Regions from separate parts of the Homo sapiens genome. Here regions 2 and 3 are each linked to region 1. The links come from fine-mapping of genetic effects on gene expression. A gene starts in region 1. Each other region holds a variant in brackets. All regions are shown on one strand. Distances are from middle to middle.

Region 1 (8,183 bases):
GGGATGGAGAGGTTGCAGTGACCTGAGATCGCACCCCACCACTGCACTCCAGCCTGGGCCACAGAGCAAGATCCTGTCTCAAAAAAAAAAAAGAAAAACTGAATAACTCAAATGAAACTTATGTGTAACCAGCTCTTTACTCTCATTTCCTTCTTTCCATTAGCCCCTAATTAAAGTAAACCTAGTATATATGTAGTAAAAACCTGAAGAAAAGAGCTGTGATCTTTTTGACTCAAGGCTTTCAAACATATCTCAAAATTCAGCTATAGAAAATACAGTCTCCTGAAACTCCACTGCGGTATACTGATTGTTTTAAAAACTCTACTGAGTATTTCAAACATAACAACTTTCATATGGAGAAGCAAGAAAACATGGTAGTAATAGTTAAGATCTTGGACTATGGAGCCAGATTGCCTGTGTTTATACCCTGGTTCCATCACTTACTGAGTTACCCTGGCCAACTTAACTTCTCTGGGCCTCAGTGGGAATGATGATAATAGTGAGAACTAAATTGCATGAAAAGCCCACTTTACTGTGCCTGGAACTCAGAAATGCTTAGTACATAGGAGATATAATACAACATGTGATCTTTAAAAGTCATTCAATTTCATATGAAAATACGTATGTTTACTATTCTTTTTAAATTTTCTTGATAATGGCTGAGAATAATGACAACTAGTAATTATAGAGCACCTAGCCATTACTTAGCACTTTTGTGTGAGGGTCTCACCCTGCTGTCTCGGCTGGAGTGCAATGGCATGATCTCAACTCACTGCAACCTCCATTTCCTAGGTTCAAGTCATCCTCCCACCTCAGCCTCCCAAGTAGCCGGGACTACAGGCATGCACTACCACACCCAGCTAATTTTTATATATTTTTTTAGAGATGGGGTTTTGCCATGTTGCACAGGCTGGTCTCAAACTCCTGGGCTCATGCAATCTGCCCACCTTGGCCTCCTAAAGCGCTGGAATTACAGGCATGAACCACAGTGCCCAGCCATAGATAAATTTTTCCATATCGAATTTTAAATAGATTATCCTATTAAGCCTCCAAACTTCATATAGTTTAAGAGCAGAAACATAACTTAAAGATACATGATGGGAGAAGATGAGTCTTAAATAAGACAATTATAAAAGGGAGGTTTAAGAATGTAATTATATTCTCCAACAGAGGGCTGAAAGGTTGAAGATTATTAATATATATCAAAGTTTCATAACAAGGTAAAGAGCAACAGTATCCTTGGGGCGATGAATACTCTCACAGGCTGTCTTGATTTCTCCAGATAAAGGTTGGAAGGGCACTATCCCCTACTTGGGCAGTCCCTATTTATGCTTTTGGTGTATAGTGCGGACGAATCATTGAGATTACTCCAAATCTGCTCCATCATGATTATCACAATTTTTACAAAGGACAACCCCTGTCTTCATTGAGTTTAGGAAGTTAATACTCCAACACAGCCTTTCAATCACGTAATTACATTCTTATTTACTGCATCTACAAACCAAATAGAGCAGTAAGTCATTCCTGAACGAGGAACTAAGGTTAAGAACATCAAACCAGAGTAATTACAGCTGCTGTGGTTTGTCACAGCTTAAAATAATAATAATAAAAAAGTAATAGCAAGCATTTACTGAGCACCTACTACATGCCAAGTTTTTTGCACATGTCAATTAACTTAATCTTTACAATAATCCTATAAGGAAGTAACTTGTCCAAGATCACAAACGTAGCAAGTGGAAGGCAGGAGGTTTGAACACAGAAGTCTAGGGTCCCAAAGAATACACTCCTAGCTAACATCTACACTATACAGTCCCTGCAGCCCTGATCCTCTCCCCTAATATGCTACAGCTGGTGGAATCATATCACAGAAGCTGTTTCCTGTAAATGCTCTCTATCATCCAAGCATTTCAACTTTGAGCCGTCATTTACAGTTCCTCTTATCACAATTAACAACAATCTATACATGGTAATCTCTAAAATACCACATAGCTGCTCCTTATACACTGGCTCGTTTCAGCCTTTTTTTTTTTTTTTTTTTTTGAGACAGAGTCTTGTTTTGTCGCCCAGGCTGGAGTGCAGTGGCGCAATCTCAGCTCACTGCAAGCTCCACCTCCTGGGTTCACGCCATTCTCCTGCCTCAGCCTCCCGAGTAGGTGGGACTACAGGTGCCCGCCACAGCGCCCAGCTAATTTTTTTTGTTATTTTTAGTAGAGGCGGGGTTTCACCGTGTTAGCCAGGATGGTTTCGATCTCCTGACCTCGTGATCTGCCTGCCTCAGCCTCCTAAAGTGCTGGGATTACAGGCGTGAGCCACCGCACCTGGCCCCAAATTTCTCTTCTTAAATGGGACTACTGGACACAAGACTGGGCCTTGAGAGACAGAGAGAAATATCACCAGGCATTCTGCTATGTGTTCTACTCTAAGTAAAAGCAGTCATTTCTATTTAACAGCAATGACACACAATTATTCTCTTAAAAAAGATGGTCACTTAACAATATGCATACGTTCCCTTATGACAGTTCCTATTATGCCATTGGCACAACCCCAATTTGTGATTCATATAACCTGTAGTCAAATTACTTCCTATCTAGGCCATTTTTTACAATTCACTACTAAAAACTGAAAACATGCATTCCACTACTTGTGTTAGGAAAACTTGAACTTCTGAACAAAGATACGATCCGAAAATATCTATTAAATTCTCAGCGTTAATGGCCCTTCATGACCCAGATGAAAATTTTATAAGTAGGTTCCAATAATATGATGCACACTTTGGTGAAAATTTTATGTTAAGAAGTTTTCTGAAGAAAAAATAAAAACTCTTCTGCCAAATAACTATTCTGAAACCTCCACAACAATATCGAGAAGATAGAGTCCAGGCAGATTTCAACGTGGAGTTATAAATACCAGGCTCTTGCCTAACAAACTGCTTTGCAGTGCTTATCCCACATTGCTGATAAAATACCCAACAGCCTTGGTTATTGGAAGAGAAAAGCTTTAAAAATCTACATCTCAGTAAATTCCTTCCACTGATCCTGAATTTCACGGACTAGCAACTGTTTCCAGATTATCTAGACTACCACCTCTGCATCAATAGTTGGCCCCTGAGGGAGTCTCAGGGCCCTCTGAAAATCTGATGAAAGCCAGGGACCTTCTTTCCAGGGAAGTGCAAAGTTCACCAGCCTATTTCTAAATGCCAAAAGAACACTACTCTATACTTTGTAGCAAATGAAAGGAGAAAGGTGATAACAATCTCAAACTATGTGACTAAAAATCAAACTTTCCATTTGCTCATTTTGTTAGGAAAAACAGGCCTTTACAGATTCCAAACCAAAGACGTTGGGGCAGTGAATTAGCTTGAAAACAGCTCTGGTCAAATGCATGGATTCTCCCACCAAGAACTCTCTTCTGAAACTCCATATGGTGGATAGTTCTTGCCTTTCAGTATTCAGCTCAAGTGTCACCCTCTTGGAAAAGATTACTTTCCTGACCACCTGATTACTTTTCCTCTTGGAAAAGATTACTTTCCTGACCATGGAAAGCAGTCCTCAAGCCCTCTTTATCACATCTTGCTGTTTTATTTTCAAAATAGTATTTATCAGTATTCCAAAATACCTCACCTATTTTCTTAATTAATTATTTTGTCTCCTCTATTCGAGTATAAGCTCCATAGGGGTAAGGACCATGTCCGTCTTGTTCCCCACTGAATTCTCAGTACCTGGTATGCAGTGGGCACTTGATAAATATTTGTTAAATGATTAAAACTGAAAGATAGGATAGTGATTTTGCTATCAATTATCAAGCCTTTAACTATTAGTTAGAATTCTCCCTCTTTCCATAATCTGAGGGTCCATTCAATCAGCAAATATTTATCGAGCACCTACTGTGCGCCAGGCACTGTTGCAAGCGCAAGGGATACAGCAATGAATAAGTCAGACAAGTATCTTCGCGCTGAAGACCTTGTATTTTAGTGGACTGCTAGGAATAAGCAGATGTCTTGCTCACTACAATGCCTGGGAGATCCAGAACACCTTCTACAATCCTTCCTTGAGGGAAAGAGCTATGGGAGATCCCCAAACCAAAGGAAAACATTCTCCAACGGGCACTTCCAAAACAAGAATCAGGGGTTTCCCTAAACCAGTTGGACGGCTCTTCCTACATGCTCTGTTCACCTAGGGGAACCCCAATCAGCAGAGCTCAGGTAACGAAAAAACTTGGGGCAAGGGCTACTGTTTCTAGGACTTGGAGGTGGTGAGGGGAGGAACCAGGAAACAGGGCGACAAGGAATCGTGGCAAAAGCCCTGAGCTGGAACCCTGAGGAACAAGCTCTGGTTGTCACCAACTTGCTAGGTGACCTTGGGCCAGTCCCGAGCTGCCCGGGCAACACTTCCTCCGGGGGTATAATGAGGAGGAGGCCGGAAGGGTGGAATTCGGGATCGGGGGGAAGCGGAGGCCAGGAGGCCGGGCCAAGGCCGAGTAGGATAGGGCAACGGCCGACGTGCTGAGGCCAGCGCGGGGCAGGGCGGGAGCGGCTCACCCACCGAGCGCCACCTGGCAGGCCCTGCGCAGCTGGGAGTGCTGGGGCCGCTTCACCTCCTTGTCGGCTAGGATCTTCTCCAGGGCCCGGGACACGAACATGCTCTTGGTCTGGCTCTCCTGCATGGCCCCGGCCCGGCGGGGGCTGACGGCCCCGCGGGCGGGCGGCGTGAGCGAGATGGCGAGCTAGGCTGCGGGCCCGGCGTCCCGGCCGGCACCGGCCGCGTCCGTCCGCGCCGCCCCGTCAGGAAGCGACACCTCGGCCCCACGGCGCCGCCATGTTGGAGCGCGTCACGTGACCACGTGACTGGCGAGGCCGCTACGGCCGCCTAGCGTCCGTCGGCCCCGTGACCCCCAGCGGGGCGGAGCCTAAGGCTGGGGGCGGAGCGGAGTCAGGTGGGCGAGAGACAGAAGGCGAGGGTGGAGGGTGGAAGAAGAGAAGGTGGGGAGGGGAGTGGGCATGGGCGAAGGGTATAGGGGACGCGGGGGCTAAAGAAAGGCGAAAGCGGGGAGAGGTGGTGATGGAGATGAGAGGAGAGAAGCGCAAGGTAACGGGAGGTGAAGGGGAGCACGAGAATGGAGATGACGTGGGTAAGAGAGGAGATGAGGAAAGGAAGGGGAACGAGAGGATTGGCAAAAAAGAACGGTGACAAGGAGAGATGATAAAGGGGCAGGAGGAGAAGGCGAGTAGGAAAGAAAAGAGGTGAGGGAGCGAGGACTGGAAGCTGGTGAATGAATGAGAAGTGATCGGGAGTAAGGGGCGTCAGGAGGAAGGAGGAAGGGCGATGAGAAGGCGGCGGCGGAGGGGAAGGGGGGAGGCCCGGCGCGGCGGCTCACGCCTCTAATCCCAGCGCTTCCGGAGGCCAAGGCGGGAGCATCGCTTGAGCCCAGGAGTTCGAGACCAGCCTGGGCAACATAGGGAGACCCTTTCTCTACAAAATAAAAAGTAAAACAGCCGGGCCTGGTGGCGCTGCTTGTGGTCCCAGCTACTGGGGAGGCTGAGGTGGGAGGATCGCTTGAGCCTCGGAGGTTGAGGCCGCAGTGAGCTGTGATGGCACCACTGCACTCCAGCCTGGGCCACAGAAGGAGACCCTGTCTCAAAAAACAAACAAACAAAAAGGAGGTGAGTTAGTTATGGAGGAGATGAGGTGGTGTGGGAAGAGGTGAGAGGGAGGCACAGAGGTAAAAGAAAAAGGAGAAAGACAGGAGGGAGAGGGGAAGTGAAAAGGAAAGAGAGGTAGAAATGAGAGGAGGGGAAAGAGTAGGAGAAAGGGTGAAGGGAGAGGAGGTAGGAAGGGGAGCTGTCAGGAAGAACAGAAAAGAAAGAAAAAGATGAGAGTAACAAGTTAGGAAAACAGGAAAGAGATGGAAAAAGGAATGGTGTAGGAAGGAGGTGAAGGGGAAGGAGGTGAGGAAGAGTGGAAAGAACATGCTGGGAGAATAGGAAATGGAAGGGGTGGAGGGAGAGGGGAGGTGAAAGGAAGACAGAGAGGGAGAGAGAGAAGGTGTGTTTATGTCTATTCTCCACAAGCAGGGTTTCACCACAGCCACTGGCAAGATACACACATCCATATGACCCTCCTGTCACAGCAGCAGTGACCTTGCAGTTCAGTGAACTTCTGTTTATTGAGTGTCGCAGCTGTGCATAGTATACCAGGAAGCACTGACCTCTCTCTGTAGTTTATCCTGTTATAAACCTGTGAACCCTCACAGTGCAGTGAACTGGACCTGGGCTTTGGGAGTCAGGGGAAGAAACCCAGATGGCCAGTGTCACACAGCCTGCAAATGAGTGCTGGGGGACAGATACTCTGGCCCCAAGGCAGCTTCCACTCCATTCCACAATGATGCTATCACAGCAACCATTAGTGGTGTCCCCTGGGCCCCTTCCCCCAAGGGCAGCCATGGGCTTATGCAAAGACAGTTGTCTTCCTTGGAAACCTCAGAGGCACAGACATCCCAGGCAGGCATGCTCCAGTGCTCGGGTCTTAGCTCAGACGTCTCTGGGAAGCCTTCCCTGACCTGTCTCAAGTAGCCCCCTCTCTCCCTAGCTGATGTTTTCCACAGCACTTTCTGAGCTTTTGTACGTGTTGACTATTTGTTGTCTCACTAAAGCACGGTTGCAGAGGGGCAGGCCATATCCCCAGGGCCCGGTCTACAGTCACGTTGAATATTTCATGGCCTTAAATTCTGCAAGTTCCACTGCTTGTAATGCGATTTCGCAGTCACTCCCAGCAAGAGGTAGAGTTTGTTTCTCCACCAGCCTGAACCTAGACTAGCCTTGTGGCTGGTCTTGACCAATAGAATGTGACAGAAAAGAGGCTGCACAAGTCCCAGAGCATCAACAGCCCTGGCTCACTTCTTCCTTTACTGCCTGGGAATGCTGAATGACACTCAGAAGCAGCCCTGGGCAGGTCAGTGGCTCATGCCTGTAATTCCAACACTGGGAGGCTGAAGTAGGAGGATCACTTGAGCCCAGGAGTTCGAGACCAGCCTGGGCAACATATCAAGACCCTGATGCTACAAAAAATTTAAAAAATTATCCAGGAATAGTGATGCCTGCCTGTAGTCCCAGCTACTTGGAGGGCTGAGGTGGGAAGATTGCTTGAGCCCAGGAGGTGGAGGCTGTAGTGAGCCGTGACTGCCCCTCTGCCCTCCAGCCTGGGAGACAGAGCAAGACTCTGTCTCAAACAACAACAACAATAATAACAACAAAATGGTAGCAGCCCCAGAAGAAAGAGCACGTGGATAGGGAGCCCAGTCATTGCAGCTCTCCCAGCCGACCCACCAGCTGAATACAGCAGCACAAGTGACTAGTGAGACCAGCAGAAAAACTGCCCAGCTGAGCCACAGAATAGCAGAAAACAAAAAATCATTACTTTATGCCACTACATTCTGGGGTCTTGCTTGTTACACAGCAATAGATCACTGAGACACACCTCAATCCTTATGTGTTGAATGAATGAATGAATGAATGAAATTCTCTAGAGTACAGTGCAGTCTGCTGAGTAACATGTTTTGATCCCACCCCACTCCCCCCAACACACACACACAGCAAGGCCAGACTATGTCACTCCCCTGCCGAAAATCCAACAGAGGCTCCCTATTGCCCTTGGAATTGAGTCCAAGTTCAGTATCATACTGTGGCCAACAAGGTGTGATAGAGGCCCTGCCATTTTCTCTGAGCTCATCTCCTTCCTGCTTTTCTTCAGGACTCTGGCCACTCTGGGCTCCTTTTTGTTCCCATCAAGGGCTTGTCTTACATTTTTCTGTCCCTCTTAATCAGTGCTTCTCCATGAAGGCAGTACCACCCCCAGACGCATTTTGAAATTTTGTTGGGGGGATATTTCTGTTGTCGTAATAGAGGGAACAGGAATGCTAGATAACATCCTGCAGAGAGCTGAACAATCCTATGTAACAAACAATTCAATGTATGCCACATGGCCAGACACTCCTGGAGATGAAAAACTTATTGATAATGATCTGAGCCTAGAATCTAAATCTGCTTTACATATAAAATGTTTTTTGCTGTAGTTTTTTTGTTTGTTTGTTTGTTTGTTTTGAGATGGAGTCTCGCACTGTCGCCTAGGCTGAAGTGCAGTGGTGTGATCTCCACTCACTGCAACCTCTGCCTCCCAGGTTCAAGCGAT
Region 2 (8,183 bases), 130 kb before region 1:
ACGGTGGCTCATGCCTGTAATCCCAGCACTTTGGGAGGCTGAGGCGGGTGGATCACGAGGTCAGGAGATGGAGACCATCCTGGCTAACACGGTGAAACCCTGTCTCTACTAAAAATACAAATAATTAGGTAGGCATGGTGGCGGGCGCCTGTAGTCCCAGCTACTCAGGAGGCTGAGGCAGGAGAATGGCGTGGACCCGGGAGGCGGAGCTTGCAGTGAGCCAAGATGGCGCCACTGCACTCTAGCCTGGGCGACAGAGGGAGACTCCGTCTCCAAAAAAAAAAAAAAAAAAAAAATTTTTAATAGTGTTGGCAACAGCTTTCTTTGAAAGTCTAAGAAGATTAAAGATTAGAGCCATTAACTTCCCTTTATCCAGGAACACATTACTTCTTTATACACTAATAAACTAATTTTTCCTCTCAAAAATCACAAAGACTTTTCTAGAAGAGGATAGATGCATTAACATGTTCATGATTCTAGTCATCATACATAATATATAACACACATTCTCTTCCTCATGGAACCCTTCCAACATCCTCTATGAGCATGCACATTGGTAAGTTTTGAAGAAACAGGTCAAGAGCATTTTAATATGGCCCATATCAAGGATCAATAACTGACTGCTCACAAGATATATCTGGCCCAGAAGTAGTTTGGCTTGCACTGTATTTCAATTTTTTTTTTTTTTGAGACAAAGTCTCACTCTGTCACCTAGGCTGGAGTGCAGTTGGGCAATCTTGGCTCACTGGAACCTTCACCTCCTGGGTTCAAGCGATTCTTGCACCTCAGCCTCCCAAGTAGCTGGGGTTACAGGCACATGCTACCATGCCTGGCTAATGTTTGTATTTTTAGTAAAGACAGGGTTTCACCATGTTGGCCAGGCTGGTCTCAAACTCCTGACCTCAGGTGATCTGCCCTCCTGGGCTTCCCAAAGTGCTGGGATTACAGGCGTGAGCAAATGTGCCTGTCCAATTTTTTTTTTTCTTTTGAGACGGAGTCTTGCTCTGTCACCAGGCTGGAGTGCAGTGGCCTCGGTTAACTGCAACCTCCGCTTCCTGGATTCAAGCAATTCTCCTGCCTCAGCCTCCCAAGTATCTGGGACTACAGCCGTGCACCACCACGCCCAGCTAATTTTTGTATTTTTAGTAGAGACAGGGTTTCACCACATTGGCCAGGATGGTCTAGATCTCTTGACCTCATGATCCGCCTGCCTTGGCTTCCCAAAATGCTGGGATTACAGGCGTGAGCAAATGCACCTGGCCTTTTTTTTTTTTTTTTTAAGACAAGATTTCCCTCTGTCACCCAGGCTAGAGTGCACTGACATGATCATAACTCACTGCAGCTCCGACCTCTTGGGTATAAGTGAAGCTTTTGTCTCAGCCTCCCCAGTTGCTAGGAATACAGGCACACATCACCACACTTGGCTAATTTTTAAATTTTTTGTAGAGACAGGGTCTTGCTTTGTTGCCCAGGCTGGTCTCGAACTCCTGGACTCAAGGGATCTTCCTGCCTTGGCCTCCCAAATTACTGGGATTAAAGGCGTGACCACCAACCCTGGCTGTGTTTCAAAATATTTTTTTTTTTGGGACTACGTCTCGCTCTGTCACCCAGGCTGGAGTGCAGTGGCGCAATCTCAACTCACTGCAACCTCCACCTCCCAGGTTCAAGCAATTCTCCTGCCTCAGCCTCTTGAGCAGCTGGGACTACAGGTGTGTGCCACCACACCCAGCTAAGTTTTTGTATTTTTTAGTAGAGAAGGGGTTTCACCATATTAGCCACGATGGTCTCGATCTCCTGCCCTCGTGATCTGCCCACCTCGGCCTCCCAAAGTGCTGGGATTACAAGCGTGAGCCACCGCACCCGGCCCCAAAATCTTTTGAAGTTACTTGCTAACATTTAAAAATGAGGGCACTTCATATAAATATCCTTATTTTTCAAGCAAAACTGGAAATCTGATCTTGCAAAACTAGTCTGAATCCCCAAAATTAGCTAGTTCCAAAAAGTACTTGCCACTTAATCAGGGCATGTATTCTCCTGATATTACCAGTCTCCACTTGGCCTATCTCCCTCATTTAACTTAACAGCTGAGTCCTGTGAACACCTGAGTTCAATATTTTAATTCTACGTTTTTAATGGAATCTGGTCAGATTCAGGAAGGAAAAAAAAAGCTCTAGGTCTTAAAATATATTAGTTAAATCAAACCCAATAGAAAATTAAAATTAAGAGACAGTAACTGATTACTTGGCTTCATTCACTTAATCACTTTTTAGGCAATTACTCTCCTTTCTATGCCCTAATTATTTTATCTCTAAAGCAGGCTTTTTTTTTTTTTTGAGACGGAGTCTTGCTCTGTCGCCCAGGCTGGAGTGCAGTGGCGCAATCTCGGCTCACTGCAAGCTCTGCCTCCGGGGTTCACGCCATTCTCCTGACTCAGCCTCCTGAGTAGCTGGGACCACAGGCACCCGCCACCACGCCCGGCTAATTTTTTGTACTTTTAGTAGAGACGGGGTTTCACCGTGTTAGCCAGGATGGTCTCCATCTCCTGACCTCGTGATCCGCCTGCCTCAGCCTCCCAAAGTGCTGGGATTACAGGTGTGAGCCACCGCATCCGGCCTAAAGCAGGCATGTTTTAAGTGGGTATTTTGGAAAAGGTCAAAGACAAAGCATTCTAAACATGTCAGTACTTTTTATCCGAAAACTAGTACTTTTTAATCCCAGAAGATGCCAAATAAAAGCTATTTTACTCAAAAAAGAAACAACACACCATGGTATAGCAGCTGTAACACTTATAAACTACGCTTGAGAACCCAAGTATGAATTTTTTAAAATATATTTATAAGGAGGCAGATAATACATAGGTTTCTCTCACCTGTCCTGAAGGAATTAATCAACCAAAAAACGTTTATTTTCTTTACCTGGACGTCGGATGGCAGGATCAGGATCAAGTGTTTTCTTTAAATATTCTGTTAGTGTTTGCAGATTTGCATCGCTGAGTTCCATTGCTATAGGATCTAAAATATAAAATAAGGTTTGGATAACTGGTCACTTACGGAAAAAGTGATTTACATTTAAAGAAATCCGTTTATATTATGGGTTATTCTCTCTGAAAGTCATCCATCTGTTGTTTTTTATATGGGCAGTAAACCTGACTCTGAGACAAGAGTCCAGCAAATGAGATGTGCCTTTTCCCCCAAAAACAATAGTGAGACAATTTTGTGATAAGGGAGATGAAAAAAAATCCCAAAATTTCAAAAAGATAGTCATAGAAAAAAAAGCTGAAGGACTGCTCGAAGTCACCAAGAAGTTTATATGATTTAATGCTATGGGAAAGGGCTAATAAAGGTTAAGAAAAAAAAAATCACTGGAGGAACTTATTAAAGAAGCCCCATAAGGAGCCCGGGCAGTGGCTCAGGCCTGTAAATCCCGACACTTTGGGAGGCTGAGGTGGGTGGACTGCTTGAGCTCAGGAGTTAAGAGACCAGCCTGTCAACAGGGTGAGACCCCATCTCTACCAAAACTACAAAAAAATTGAAGCCGGGCATGGTGGCTCATGCCTGTAATCCCAGCACTTTGGGAGGCTGAGGCAGGCGGATCACCTGAGGTCAAGAATTTGAGACCAGCCTGGTCAACATGGTAAAATCCCGTCTCTACTAAAAATACAAAAATTAGCTGGACATGGTGGCAGGAGCCTGTAATCTCAGCTACTTGGGAGGCTGAGGCAGGAGAATCGCTTGAACCCGGGAGGCAAAGGTTTCAGTGAGCTGAGATCGCACCATAGCACTGCAGCCTGGGCGATAAGAGCAAAACTCCGTCTCAAAACAAACCAACCAACCAACCCAAAAAATTAGCCAGGCATGGTAGTGGGTGCCTTCAGTCCCAGCTACTCGGAAGGCTGAGGTGGGAAGATGTCTTGAGCCTGGGGGCAGAGGTTGCAGTGAGCTGAGATGGTGCCACTGCACTCCAACTTGGGTGATGGAGCAAGACCTGTCTTAAAAAAAAAAAAAAAAAAGGCCCCACAACGAGAAATTAAAATTTTAAACAGCAAATAAATATCCCACATAAAGTTCTGAGATTAAAGAAACAAGAAATTCCTTCATGTACAACATGTAATCGCAAATACTACAAAGTGCTAAGAATTTGCATCTAGGGAGATAAATTCTAGAGTTCAGAAGATGACAGCTAAGATTATGATTCTAGAAGTTTTCATATTTAAAGCTTAAACAAAACTAAATCACATAATATGCTTATAACTGACCAAAAAACTTCACATCTAACAGATGACAAATTAAAAAAAAAATTTTGTAGAGACAGGGTCTCACAATGTTGCCCAAGCTGGTCTCAAACTCCTGGACTCAAGTGATCCTCCTGCCTTGGCCTCCCAGTGTGCTAGGATTACAGGCGTGAGCCACCGTGCCCAGCCCACAAATTTTAAGCTAACTAAATGGCCTACGTCGATTTAACTACTAACAACATAGGCTAAGAAATACACAGTTCAAGAGATTTATTGTACAACAAGGTGACTATAATAATGTATTGTACACTTGAAAATTACTGGGTATATTTTAAGTGCTTTCACCACACACACACACACACACACACACACACACACA[CACACAG/G]CATGTGAAGTAATATGTTAATTAGCTTGATTTAGCCATTATACAATGTATACATATTTCAAAACATGCATACCACAAATATATACAATTTTGTCCATTAAAAATGGGAAAAAAAGGAGTCTGAACCCACTCAATTAAAAGGAAAATGAAAAAACACACAGAAACAGCACATACACAGAGTACAAGTGTCAGATGTGCATGATTACCAACAGATCACAAATCCTGGGAATCTTATCAATTGAGCTTTATGGTCTCCAACTTGTTGGTGAGACGATAAAATTAGGTGCAAACTGAGGGAACTTTTTGGGGGTGACAGAGTGTTCTAAAATTGGACTGTGGTGACACATGCATAATCTACATAAATTTACTAACATTTCCCAAACAGTTCACTTAAAATGGATAAATCTTATAGTATGTAAATTGTACTTCAATAAAGCTATTTTAGGCTGGGCGCGGTTGCTCACGCCTGTAATCCCAGCACTTTGGGAGGCTGAGGGGGGTGGATCACCTGAGGTCAGGAGTTTGAGACCAGCCTGGCCAGCATGGTGAATCCCGTCTCTACTAAAAATACAAAATCAGCCGGGCATGGTGGCATGCACCTGTAATCCCAGTTACTTGGGTGGCTGAGGCAGGAGAATCGCTTGAACCTGGAGGCAGAAGCTGCAGTGAACCAAGATTGTGCCACTGCACTCCAGCCTCAGAAAGAGCGAGACTTTGTCTCCAAAAAAAAAAAAAGCGATTTTAGAAAACTCCACTTATGCTTAGATTCCATTAGGCAGCTTTTAGATATATAGCCACATGTAGATGGGAAAGTGGAGCCCTTTCAGGGAAATCATGCACCAAATTAACCAGAGGCTTCTATGAAAAAGAAGAAAAAAACTAAACACACAATTTTTGTAAAATGTAAAAAAGGTCAGTGGAAAAAGTTCAAGGATATCATAATTCAAATTATGAAAAAAAACTTCACATATAGAAGAAAACAAAAAACACACTCCAAAATGTAGAACAGTGATAACATCTCGGTGATAGATATAAGGAGAGTTTTATTCTCTTCATACTTTTCTAATCTTACAATCACATATCTATTATACATTTACAGTAAGGAATTTAAAAAATTTTATTATTTTTTCAGACAGAGTCTTGCTCTGTGGCCCAGGTTGGACTGCAGGGGCATGATCATAGCTCACCACAGCCTCAACCTCCAGGGCTCAAGCCCCAACCTCCCACCTCAGCCTCTTGAGTAGCTGGGACTACAGGCGCAATCAACCATGCCTGGCTAATTTTTGTATTTTTTGTAGAGATGGGGTTTCACCATATTGCGCAGGCTGGTCTTGAACTCCTGACCTCAAGCAATTTTCCTGCCTCGGCATCCCAAAACACTGGGATTACAGGCATGACCCACCATACCGGGACCCATTTATTTTTAAAATGCCTATGACAATATGCAATCAAGTTCCTGTCCTAGAAGGAGCTTCTGTAATAGTTCAGAAGACAAGACACAACTGAAATGCCAAGTACAGGCCTATATACCCTTTACTAAAGTGATGAAATCCAAAAATAAAAAAACTTAAAAGTTTGTTTTTTAACAAGTTTGTGGCAAACTCACTTGGCAGCAAAACCAGCCTGAACTGCCTGAGGCTATCAACATAGATTTATCTCACTTAGTATGCAAATTTGTTTCACTAAAGAAATATCAATACGTTTGATTACAGGGTGCTACCCCAAGCCCCACTGGGGATGTTGTATAATCCACAGTACATGCATCCAAAAAAAATCCCAAATTCTGAAACATCTGTCCTCTGAAGTGCCAAATGAATCACAAAGACAGCACCTTAAACGTTAGAAAATTAAGAAGGGAGTCACGGGGTTATGTGGCCATCCAAGAGTTTCCCAGAGCCTGAGCCTTGAGCTGAACCTTGAAAAATATGTGTATCTGAATAGGCAAAGTAGGATGAGGGCGCATCTGCCAAAATGAATTGTGAGAGCAAAGTAACAGAGATGGGAAGAGAGAATAGTGGGCTAGGAGATCAAGACCAGATCATATAGGTTCCTCCATACTTGGCTGAAGAGTGCCATGATTTAATGTATGGGGAAGTCATGAAGGTTTTCTTAAGTGGGTAAAAATGTAATGAAAGTGGAGTAGAGGACCTTTGGGCTGGTAATGGTTTGCAGAATGGGGGAAGTGTCACATGTATGAACCAGGCACACGATGCTAGATGTTTTCATAGGCTTCATATCATTTATTCCACACAATGATTTTACACACAAAGAAGGGCACTCAGGTTGACATATATTAACTATATATGGTTAATAAATAAAGATCAGATTTAAATCAGTCCAACTCCGTAGGTCTACCCTCTTTCTATTACCCAAGGCTGCCTCTTAGGTGGAAATGACAGACGGCTGACCAAGAGTGAAAGCACTCACAACACAATAGAAAGGCTGATGTGAAAAGAGGGCAGCCAGAGGACAACTGAGCGGTGGGGAGCCAGAAAATAAGAAAATATTATCTAATGCTGTGCTTATGCAGGGCACTCCCCAACAGCCAGAAACCCCAACCTTCTAAAGAGAATTATCTGTATTCTACATGCTGCAGTCCTTCCCCTTAATTAGAAAATGTGTTTATCACAGGAAGCTAATGTTCTGACTGAGTAGATCCCACCACCTACCTAATCACTCCCTCTAATCCAGGTGTTCCACTCTATAGGTGTGAAAATCAAGTCCCATTAAACCACACATACAATCTATTGAGAGGCTATACCCTTTATGGTTTTTTATATCACAAGTTTGGAAAATGCTACACATTATATCCTGCCCCACTTTGGAGATTCACAATACAAAGCACTTTAAACTCACAAAGTTACTGGTTCACATCAATTAATCCAGAGTCTCCACTGGTGGGAGGCTGAGGCAGACGATCGCTTGAGCCCAGGAGTTCAAGACCTGCCTGGGCAACATGGCAAAACCCCATCTCTACTAAAAATACAAAAAATTAGCCGGGCGTGGTGGTGTGGCCCTGTAGTCCTAGCTACTTGGGAGGCTAAGGTGGGAGGATTGCCCAGTCTCTCCCATTATTTGGCTATAGAACTCCTTTTCAATAGAACACACTTTGGAAAGCAATGATTTAATCCATTTATTTTCCTATTCCTTTTTTCTGTATTGAAATGGTGGATCAGTTATGAAATCATGAAAGTTTGGGCCAGGTGTGGTGGCTCACACCTATAATCCCAGCACTCTGGGAGGCTGAGAGGGGCAGATCACCTGAGGTCAAGAGTTTGAGACCAGCCTGGCCAACATGGTGAAACCCCGTCTCTACTAAAAATTAGCCATGCCTGGTAGCACATGCCTGTAATCCCAGCTACTTGGGAGGCTGAGGCAGGAGAATTGCTTGAACCTGGGAGGCAAAGGTTGCAATGAGGCGAGATTGCGCCATTGCACTCCAGCCTGGGCAACAAGAGAGAAACGCAGTCTCAAAAAAAAAAAAAAAAAAAAAAAAAAAAGTTAGTTTGCTGTGGTCAAGTTAAATCATTAACATCAGTGTATCTGAGTTAAAGGAAATTGGCCTTT
Region 3 (8,183 bases), 120 kb before region 1:
TGCCTGTAATCCCAGCTACTTGGGAGGCTGAGGCAGGAGAATCACTTGAACCTGGGAGGTAGAGGTTGCAGTGAGCTGAGGTCGCACCACTGCACTCCAGCCTGGGCGACAAAGCAAGATTCTGTCCCCCCGCGCAAAAACAAAAAAAACCCCAATCTGTCTAATGTAAGGAAAGACATTCTGAAAAGACACATTGTCTATGGTGTGCTCCTTGAGGAAGATAACTTTACATTTTATTTGGATCCAGAAGGGCGTGGACACATCTGGTTATGCTGGGAAAGAACAAGTCTTATGTCTCAATCTCGCTTTTAAAGCCCAACTGAGATGCAGAAGAGTGTTAACAGCTAAACATTGAGAAGTATCTGATTGTTGTTTCTTATCTTTTTTAAAATGGAGGCACTTTAATTTTTTTTTTTTTTTTTGAGATGGAATCTCACTCTGTTGCCCAGGCTGTACAGTACAGTGGCGCGATTTTGGCTTACTACAACCTCCGCCTCCCAGGTTCAAGCAATTCTCCTGCCTCAGCCTCCCAAGTAGCTGGGACTACAGGCGCCCACTACCACACTCAGCTAATTTTTGTATTTTTAGTAGAGATGGTTTCACCATGTTGGCCAGGCTGGTCTTGACCTGACCTCAGGTGATCTGCCCACCTTGGCCTCCCAAAATGCTGGGATTACAGGCGTGAGCCACTGCACCTGGCTTATTTCTGTTTAAATATATGTTTATATGTTATAAAAATCTACACGTTTGAGACTAGCCTGATCAACATGGTGAAACCCCATCTCTACTAAAAATATGAAAATTAGCCGGGCGTGGTACTGTGTGCCTATAATCCCAGCTATTTGGGAGGCTGAGGCAGGAGAATTGCTTGAACCCAGGAGGCAGAGGTTGCAGTGAGCTGAGATTGCACCATTGCACTCCAGCTGGGCAACAGAGCGAGACTCCATCTCAAAAAAACAAATCTACTCATACAAAATGGGAAATCTCCTTTATTAATTAGGATATAAGTTGTAGGTAATATATTATGTCCTCTATTTCCTTATTTTATATTTTTTTAATTAAAAATTTTTAAATGTATATATTTAAATTTTTTTTTGTAGGGATTGGGTCTCTCTGTGTTGCCCAGGTTGGTCTCAAACCTCTGGGCTCAAGTGTTCCACCCACCTTGGCCTCCCAAAGTGCTGGGATTACAGTGGCTCACTGCAATCTCCGCCTCCCAGGTTCAAGCGATTCTCCTGCCTCAGCCTCCCAAATAGCTGGGATTACAGGCATGTGCCACCACACCCAGCTAACTTTTGTACTTTTAGTAGAGATGGGGTTTCACCATGTTGGTCAGGCTGGTCTTGAACTCCTGAGCTCAGGTGATCCACCTGCCTCCGCCTCCCAAAGTGCTGGAATTACAGGTGTGAGGCACCACGCCTGACCTAGAAGTGTATTTTTCATGCTTCTTGATGGGAAATTATATTTTTTCCATCCCTTCAAGTGGGATTTTTAGACCTGCCTTAGACCTGGGCAAGCCTGCAGACCTTTGCCGTGCCCTTGCTTTAGAGGGCTTCGTCCTGGCCCTCCTCCAGCTGCTCCCTCCTGCCCGTTAGCCGAATGGGTGTGCACATCTAGAACCCATGCCACTCCCTTTGAGACCACACTGCAGTTGGACAGGGCCCTGGAATTCCCAACCCATAGGGCCCTGGCCTGTGGATACCCTTGCCTGGGTCACTTCTTCAGAGGGTGGGCTGCACAGCAGCTTGTGAGCACTCCCATGCTGGAAGGGTGACTTGGGTCAGAAAGGGGTTTGCAGGGAGTTTGGACAGGAATGGGCTTCCATGCACACATGCAAAGCCTTATGGTGCAGGGTGAAGCCTGAGGTGGAGAGAGCAGGGTGCTGGTCTTGGGCCAGCCACCCGGTGCTGCTGCTTTCTGGTGTGGAGCTCTGAGGAGCCTGAGAATTCCATCTTTGACCTGCCCTTCCAGATCTTTACAAAGGTACATTTATAAAGGAAGGAAGATAGACTGTCTTATTCAAAAGTTTTACGTATAGTTTTTCAATGTTGACCCTCAGAGCATGGGAGCCGACATTTGTATTTCTGCCCTAGAGCCTGCAAATGTTAGTCCTGTGCTAAGTGTGTTCTCTGTCCACAGGAGCCAGGGCCCCATATTATCTACCGCTGTCCATCTGCTCTCCAGCACATCAGAGCAGCCCTTCCCCTGTGTGAGATTCCTCTCCAGGGCAAGACTTGAAGGGAGCATCAAGGTTGCAGTGGAAGAAATAAATTGGAAGTGGAGCTGGGCAGTTATTTATTTATTTAAATAGAGACAAGGCCGAATGCGATGGCTCACACCCGTAATCCCAGCACTTTAGGAGGCCGAGGTGGGTAGACGACCTGAGGTCAGGAGTTCAAGACCAGCCTGATCAACATGGCGAAATCCCGTCTCTACTAAAACTACAAAAATTACCTGGGCACGGTGACACGCACCTGTAGTCCCAGCTACTCAGGAGGCTGAGGCACAAGAATTGCTTGAACCTGGGAGGCCAAAATTGCAGTGAGCCAAGATTGCACTACTGCACTCCAGCCTGGGCGACAGAGCCAGACTCCATCTCAAAAAATATATATATATAAATAAAAAATAAATAAATAGAGACAAGTCTCACTGTGTTGCCCAGGCTGGTCTCGAACTCCTGGGCTGAAGCAATCTGCCTGCCTTGGCCTCCCAGAGAGCTGGGGTTACAGGTGTGAGGCACGGTGCCAGGCTAGATCTGGGCAATGTTTAGGAGGCGGGCTCTAGAGCCAGGCTGCAGGGCTTCAAATCCCTCTGAGTGTCCTAAGTCAAGTTTGTCAACCTCTCTGAGCCCGTACCCCTCTATAAAAAGGAGGGATGCTGGTGATGATGATAATAGTACCTACTTTACGGGGGTTATTGTGCGAATTAATGGCTGAAGAATGGTTGAAATAGCAAGAGTCAAAAACATGATCAATATGGAAAGCCTAGCAGGAGAAAGTACTAAAGTTCATTGATGGGGAGATGGGGAGGGGGACAGATGGGGTCTCACCGTTTCCCAGGCTGGTCTCAAACTTCTGGCCTCAAGTGA[T/C]CCTCCTGCCTTAGCCTCCCAAAGTGTTGGGATTATAGGCATGAGCCACTGTGCCCAGCCATTAAATTCTCCTTCTTTCCTCTTTTGGTGGAAGGGAAGGGAGAAGTGAGACTTTACCAGGAGTCCATGGAATGTGGCCCAAAGGCCAAGGACAGAGTACCTTCCAGGACTCTCTCAGAGGGCAGCAGGAGCCCAGGGCTGCTTTCTGCCTATGACAGGTGTGCAGTAGAAGTGGGTCTTCAGAGGCTGGGCGCAGTGTCTCAGGCCTGTAATCCTAGCACTTCGGGAGGCAGAGGCGGGCAAATCACCTGAGGTCAGGAGTTTGAGACCAGCCTGGCCAACATGGTGAAAGCCAGTCTCTACTAAAAATACAAAAATTAGCCAAGTAATTTTTTTTTTTTTTTTTTTTTTTTGAGGAATCTTGCTCTGTGGCCCAGGCTAGAGTGCAGTGGTGTGATCTCAGCTCACTGCAACCTTGGCCTCCCAGGTTCAAGTGATTCTTGTTCCTTAGCCTTCCAAGTAGCTGGGACTATGGGACTACAGGTGTGTGTCACCATGCCCAGCTAATTTTTGTATTTTTCGTAGAGACAGGGTTTTGCCACATTGGCCAGGCTGGTCACAAACTCTTGACCTCTAGTGATCTGCCCGCCTCAGCCTCCCAAAGTGCTGGGATTACAGGTGTAAGCCACCACACCTGGCCCATGCCTGATAGTTTTGATTCATCATGGATAATCTGTCATTAAAAGAAATTCAGGGCCAAGTCCAGTGGCTCATGCCTGTAAATTCCAGCACTTTAGGAGGCTGAGGTGGGAAGATGACTTGGGCCTAGGAGTTTGAGACCAGCTGGGGCAACGTAGCAAGACCCTGTCTCTACAATAAAATTTAAAAAAATTAGCTGGGCATAGTGAGGTGTGCCTGTAGTCCCAGCTACTGGGGAGGCTGAGGCAGGAAGATTGCTTGAGCCCAAGAATTTGAGGCTGCAGTAAGCTATGATGGTGCCACTGCCACTGCACTCCAGCCTGGGAGCCACAGCAAGATCCTGAATCAAAAAGAATTCATCTGAGGGTTCACCAAGTTGCTGATGAGTCTCTAGAAAGTACAAGGAGAATCCTGGGTTTAGCCATTGAGTCTCAGGATGCAGGAATCAAGATCATCACAATACTGGATAAACAAGGGGAACAACTCAACCACATAGAAGACATGGGCCACAAAAATACAGACATGAGAGAGGCAGAGAAGACTTTAACAGAACTTAACAAATGCCATGCCCTTCGTGTCTGTCCACATAATAGAACAAAGAACTTTGGATGGCTTGGGCACGAGAAATTGAGGCTGCAGTCAGCTGCAATGAGGCCACTCACCCCAGCCTGGGTGACAAAGCAAGATCACGTCTCTTAAAAAAAAAAATTGGAAACATTGACAAAGACAGCCAAGAAGAAGGAAGCTGTAGAAGTGTTTTTTGTTTGTGGTTTTTGTGGTGGAGGGAGGGACAAGAGATAAGAGGTTAACCTCAGCAAAAACCTAGCTGGGCATGGTGGCACGTGCCTGTAATCCCAGCATTTTGGGAGGCTGAGGTGGAAAGATTGCTTTCTTTCCACCTGGGATGTGGAATCACACATTCTATGCACACCTATGAATCACTAAGACTTCAGAAGTTAAGCTCCCTTTAAGAAAACTCATTCTTTTTGGAGCAGAGGTTGCAGAACTGTGATCCCTAACAAAAATACTGTGTATAAAAGCTCCAAAACGAAGTATTAGCTTAAAGTGGCAATAACTACAACTTTATAACCAACTAAATCTTTACCGTGGCTATGCAACTTTTTGCTTTGTGGCCAGAAGGTTTTTTTGGTTTTTGTTTTTTTGAGACAGGCTGTCACCCAGGCTGAAGTGCAGTGGCACAAACAAAGCTCACTGCAGCCTCGACCTCCTGGGCTCAAGCAGTCCTCCCCACCCCAGTCTCCTGGGTAGCTGGGACTACAGGCGTGTGCCACCACACTTGCTATTATTATTTTGTAGAGATAGGGTCTCACTACATTCCCCAGATTGGTCTCAAACTCCTGGCTTCTAGCAATCCTCCCACCATGCCAGACCCTAGACTTAAAAAGTTAGAATTGGCTGGATGTAGTGGCTTACACCTATAATCCCAATACATTGGGAGGCTGAGGTGGGAGGATCACTTGAGCCCAGGAGCTGAAGACCAATTTGGCCAACATAGTGAGACCCCCATCTCTATTTTTAAAAAAAGTTAGAATTTATTGTGTTACTAAAAGTGATTTGGAAAATTATACCTTTAGTTTAATTATTGGGGAATTACACTGTCAGTCTCTTACCCTTGTGTATAGAACTATGTCCAGAATCAAATTTATGTAGATCCTAAACACTGTTATGGGAATCTGATTAGTATTTGTCACATTGACTTAAAAATTAGCATCTCAGTTGGCGTGGTACTCACACCTGTAATTTCAGCACTTTGGGAGGCCAAGGTGGGAGGATCACTGAGGCCAGGAGTTCAAGACCAGCCTGGGCAACATGGTGAAACCCCAACTCTACAAAAAAATACAAAAATTAGCCAGGCAAGGTGTCTCACTACTGGCCCTATAGTTCCGGCTAATCAGGAAGCTGAGGTGGGAGAATTACTTGAACCAAGAAGGTTAAGGCTGCAGTGAGCTGTGATTGCACCACTGCTCTCAGCCTGGGCTACAGGGCAAGACCCTGTCTCAAAAATAAATAAATAAATTAGCATCTGAATATTTCAAAGCTGTCAATGTGTACTGGCTGAACCAATAGCCACTACTTGATCCTTACAATTACATTTTGTAACTAGCAACAACAAAGTTAATAGATTCAAGAGGCATATAAAGAATCTCATGACTAGAATTTTCCCCCTTTCATTGGTGAGGGACATAAACTGACCCAAAACTACGGCTTGATATATGTTTTTTAAATTACTACACATTAGAAACAGCTATACTTTTTAAAATTTTATTGATGTACCACCTGATCAAAGCATGGGATATTTTAATAGTATTATACATAATATTTTTACATAGAAAACTTTACATAGCATTTCATATTATATAATTCTGCTTATTCTTTCAAAAATTTATACATCCATTGGGCAAGGAATGGTTTTCATTAAATTACCAATATTAAATGCACTTAATCATTGTGTATAGGTTAAACCAAAGTAACTATTAACTAACTTTTAGGCATTTTAAGGAGGTAAAACATACATTTTACACATAAATATTTGATGCAAATATGCAGATAAAATTTTTTAAAAATTAGAACACTGAGTAAAACACCTTTGATAGATTATATTGTTTTGTTTTGAGAGCAAGGATTTCCAGATATGTTCATTCTTTAAAACACTCAGCTTTGGTTTCTTTGTTTCCCAAACTGCAAAGCTGCTGATAACAAAACTCCAGGATTCCATGTGAGTTCAGCTATGTCTACTTTAACACAAATATTAAAACAGAATTCAGAAAATGCAGTATTAAGGATCCAGCTTCTATTGAAACCAATATCCATTTGCATCATAACAACAAACATTTGAATGAGATGGTCACACTTGTACTTATCAGCAGGTTCCTTTAATAACAAAGACTACTAAATGTATATCCTTAATCACAAAAGAACAACAAAAAAAATACAGGTTTTTTTTTTTTCATTTCGTACAAAAGTCACCTGCCAGAGGAAAATGTTGTGTTTCCAGATATTATAATACAATTTTCATAATGTATGTTCTTTGGTTGTACATGAGGAGTACAGGGAAAAGATATATTTGACTCTAAAGATGCGTATCAGAAATAAAAATTACCCATCCACTGTTTGTTGTTAAGATGCCAAAGCTGGTGATTTCCCTAACAGACAATGAAGAGAAACAAAATTGCTCAAAGCAGCAGTATTGTAACAAATAAAAACTTCTCTAGAGACCCAGCACATATAATCAACACTTAAAGCATTCTGAAAAAGAAATAAGGCCTTGGAAAATGTTTCACTCTCCTCCATTACTTGGTTAAATAAATGGTGTCCTGGCCTGATGTTGCGGTTGTACATACCCTTTCACTAGTGTTTGAGTGGCACAAGCCACATTTACCATGAGAAAGAAGAGATTTATTCATAAAAATGAATTTAGGCTGAATGGCTTATTATTGGAGGTAAGGGATTTCAAATCTCTGTTCGTCACTGTCCACTGACAAGAAAAATCACCCTGAATGGTTTTACATCCAATTTTTTAAAAGTCCATTGCTGGTACAATTCAAATGCCTCATTCAGAAAATTAAATCTTTTAAAATACTAAACTAATAAGAAATGTAAGCCTGAATGTTTCAGCAAGTAATAAAATGCACTGACACATCTGCTACCCCTCAAGAGGCAAAATTAAAGAGAGGGCAGAAGACACCAGAAAAATTTTAGTCACATCCGATGAAGAAAATGACATGAGAACCTCAGAAGGAAAGGAAAAATAACCAATCAGGGATATAGCTGCACGCAAGATGGACTTAATGAATGAACACGTGTTCCCCATGTATACCTTTTGTACAAATATCAATGGAGACGACTGACTTGTTGAGGTGATGACGCGCTATGATACCAGGGAGTGTAGGTTTCATGGTGCAGTGTAAAGGTGCAGTGGATTCCAGGGCAAACCAGTCAAATGTGCTAACATTTTCCACTCACAGTAAAGTATTCTCCCATAGTCCCTTCCTGCTAAATTATACAGCTCCTTTTATCTAATGTATATAAGTCATGTAAAAACCTAAACCTGCTCATTTTTTCTTTGGTAGAGAAATTAAAAAACACTTTTTGGGAAAGAAAAAAGTAGACAAGAATTCTGCTGGCCAAAACCAAACATTTCTCAAGGCTGTTAAAACAAGAAAACAACTTAAGAATATCGGTCTCTTAGTAAGCAAAAGCACCAGAAATCCTTCTCTACAAAGAAAAAACATCTGATTTTACAGATAGGTTCCCAAACTACTAACTTCTAAGGCACCAGAGTTGACATCAATACAACCCAATTTACAGGACTAAAGAGCATAGGTAGAAGTCTGAAAGTTTTAATCATTCTGTGTAACACTTTGTCTAACGCTCA

The links. PIP is the estimated chance that this variant, and not a neighbour inherited with it, causes the effect.
Region 2: its variant is the best candidate, but not a certain one, in a credible set for the expression of ARFGEF2 in whole blood (INTERVAL, PIP 0.54).
Region 3: its variant is the best candidate, but not a certain one, in a credible set for the expression of ARFGEF2 in whole blood (INTERVAL, PIP 0.59).

What each region holds. Positions count from the first base shown.
Region 1 is chr20:48,918,369-48,926,551 of GRCh38, reverse strand. It overlaps ARFGEF2 (ARF guanine nucleotide exchange factor 2), which reads right to left and starts at 4,841. Exons shown (of 39, transcript NM_006420.3): 1 at 4,542-4,841. The coding sequence starts at 4,662. RefSeq lists an enhancer at 4,131-4,210 and silencers at 4,581-4,630, 4,671-4,770, 5,001-5,080.
Region 2 is chr20:49,053,281-49,061,463 of GRCh38, reverse strand. CSE1L (chromosome segregation 1 like) reads right to left here. Exons shown (of 25, transcript NM_001316.4): 2 at 2,916-3,011. The coding sequence starts at 3,000. Among named protein-coding and RNA genes, the nearest start is that of CSE1L, 11 kb to the right of the region's middle. The variant CACACAG/G (reference allele first, on the strand shown) is at 4,611.
Region 3 is chr20:49,034,567-49,042,749 of GRCh38, reverse strand. ARFGEF2 (ARF guanine nucleotide exchange factor 2) reads right to left here. Exons shown (of 39, transcript NM_006420.3): 39 at 6,057-8,183. CSE1L-DT (CSE1L divergent transcript) reads left to right here. Exons shown (of 2, transcript NR_110625.1): 2 at 2,140-2,287. It also overlaps the pseudogene SNAP23P1. Among named protein-coding and RNA genes, the nearest start is that of CSE1L-DT, 7.4 kb to the left of the region's middle. The variant T/C (reference allele first, on the strand shown) is at 3,089.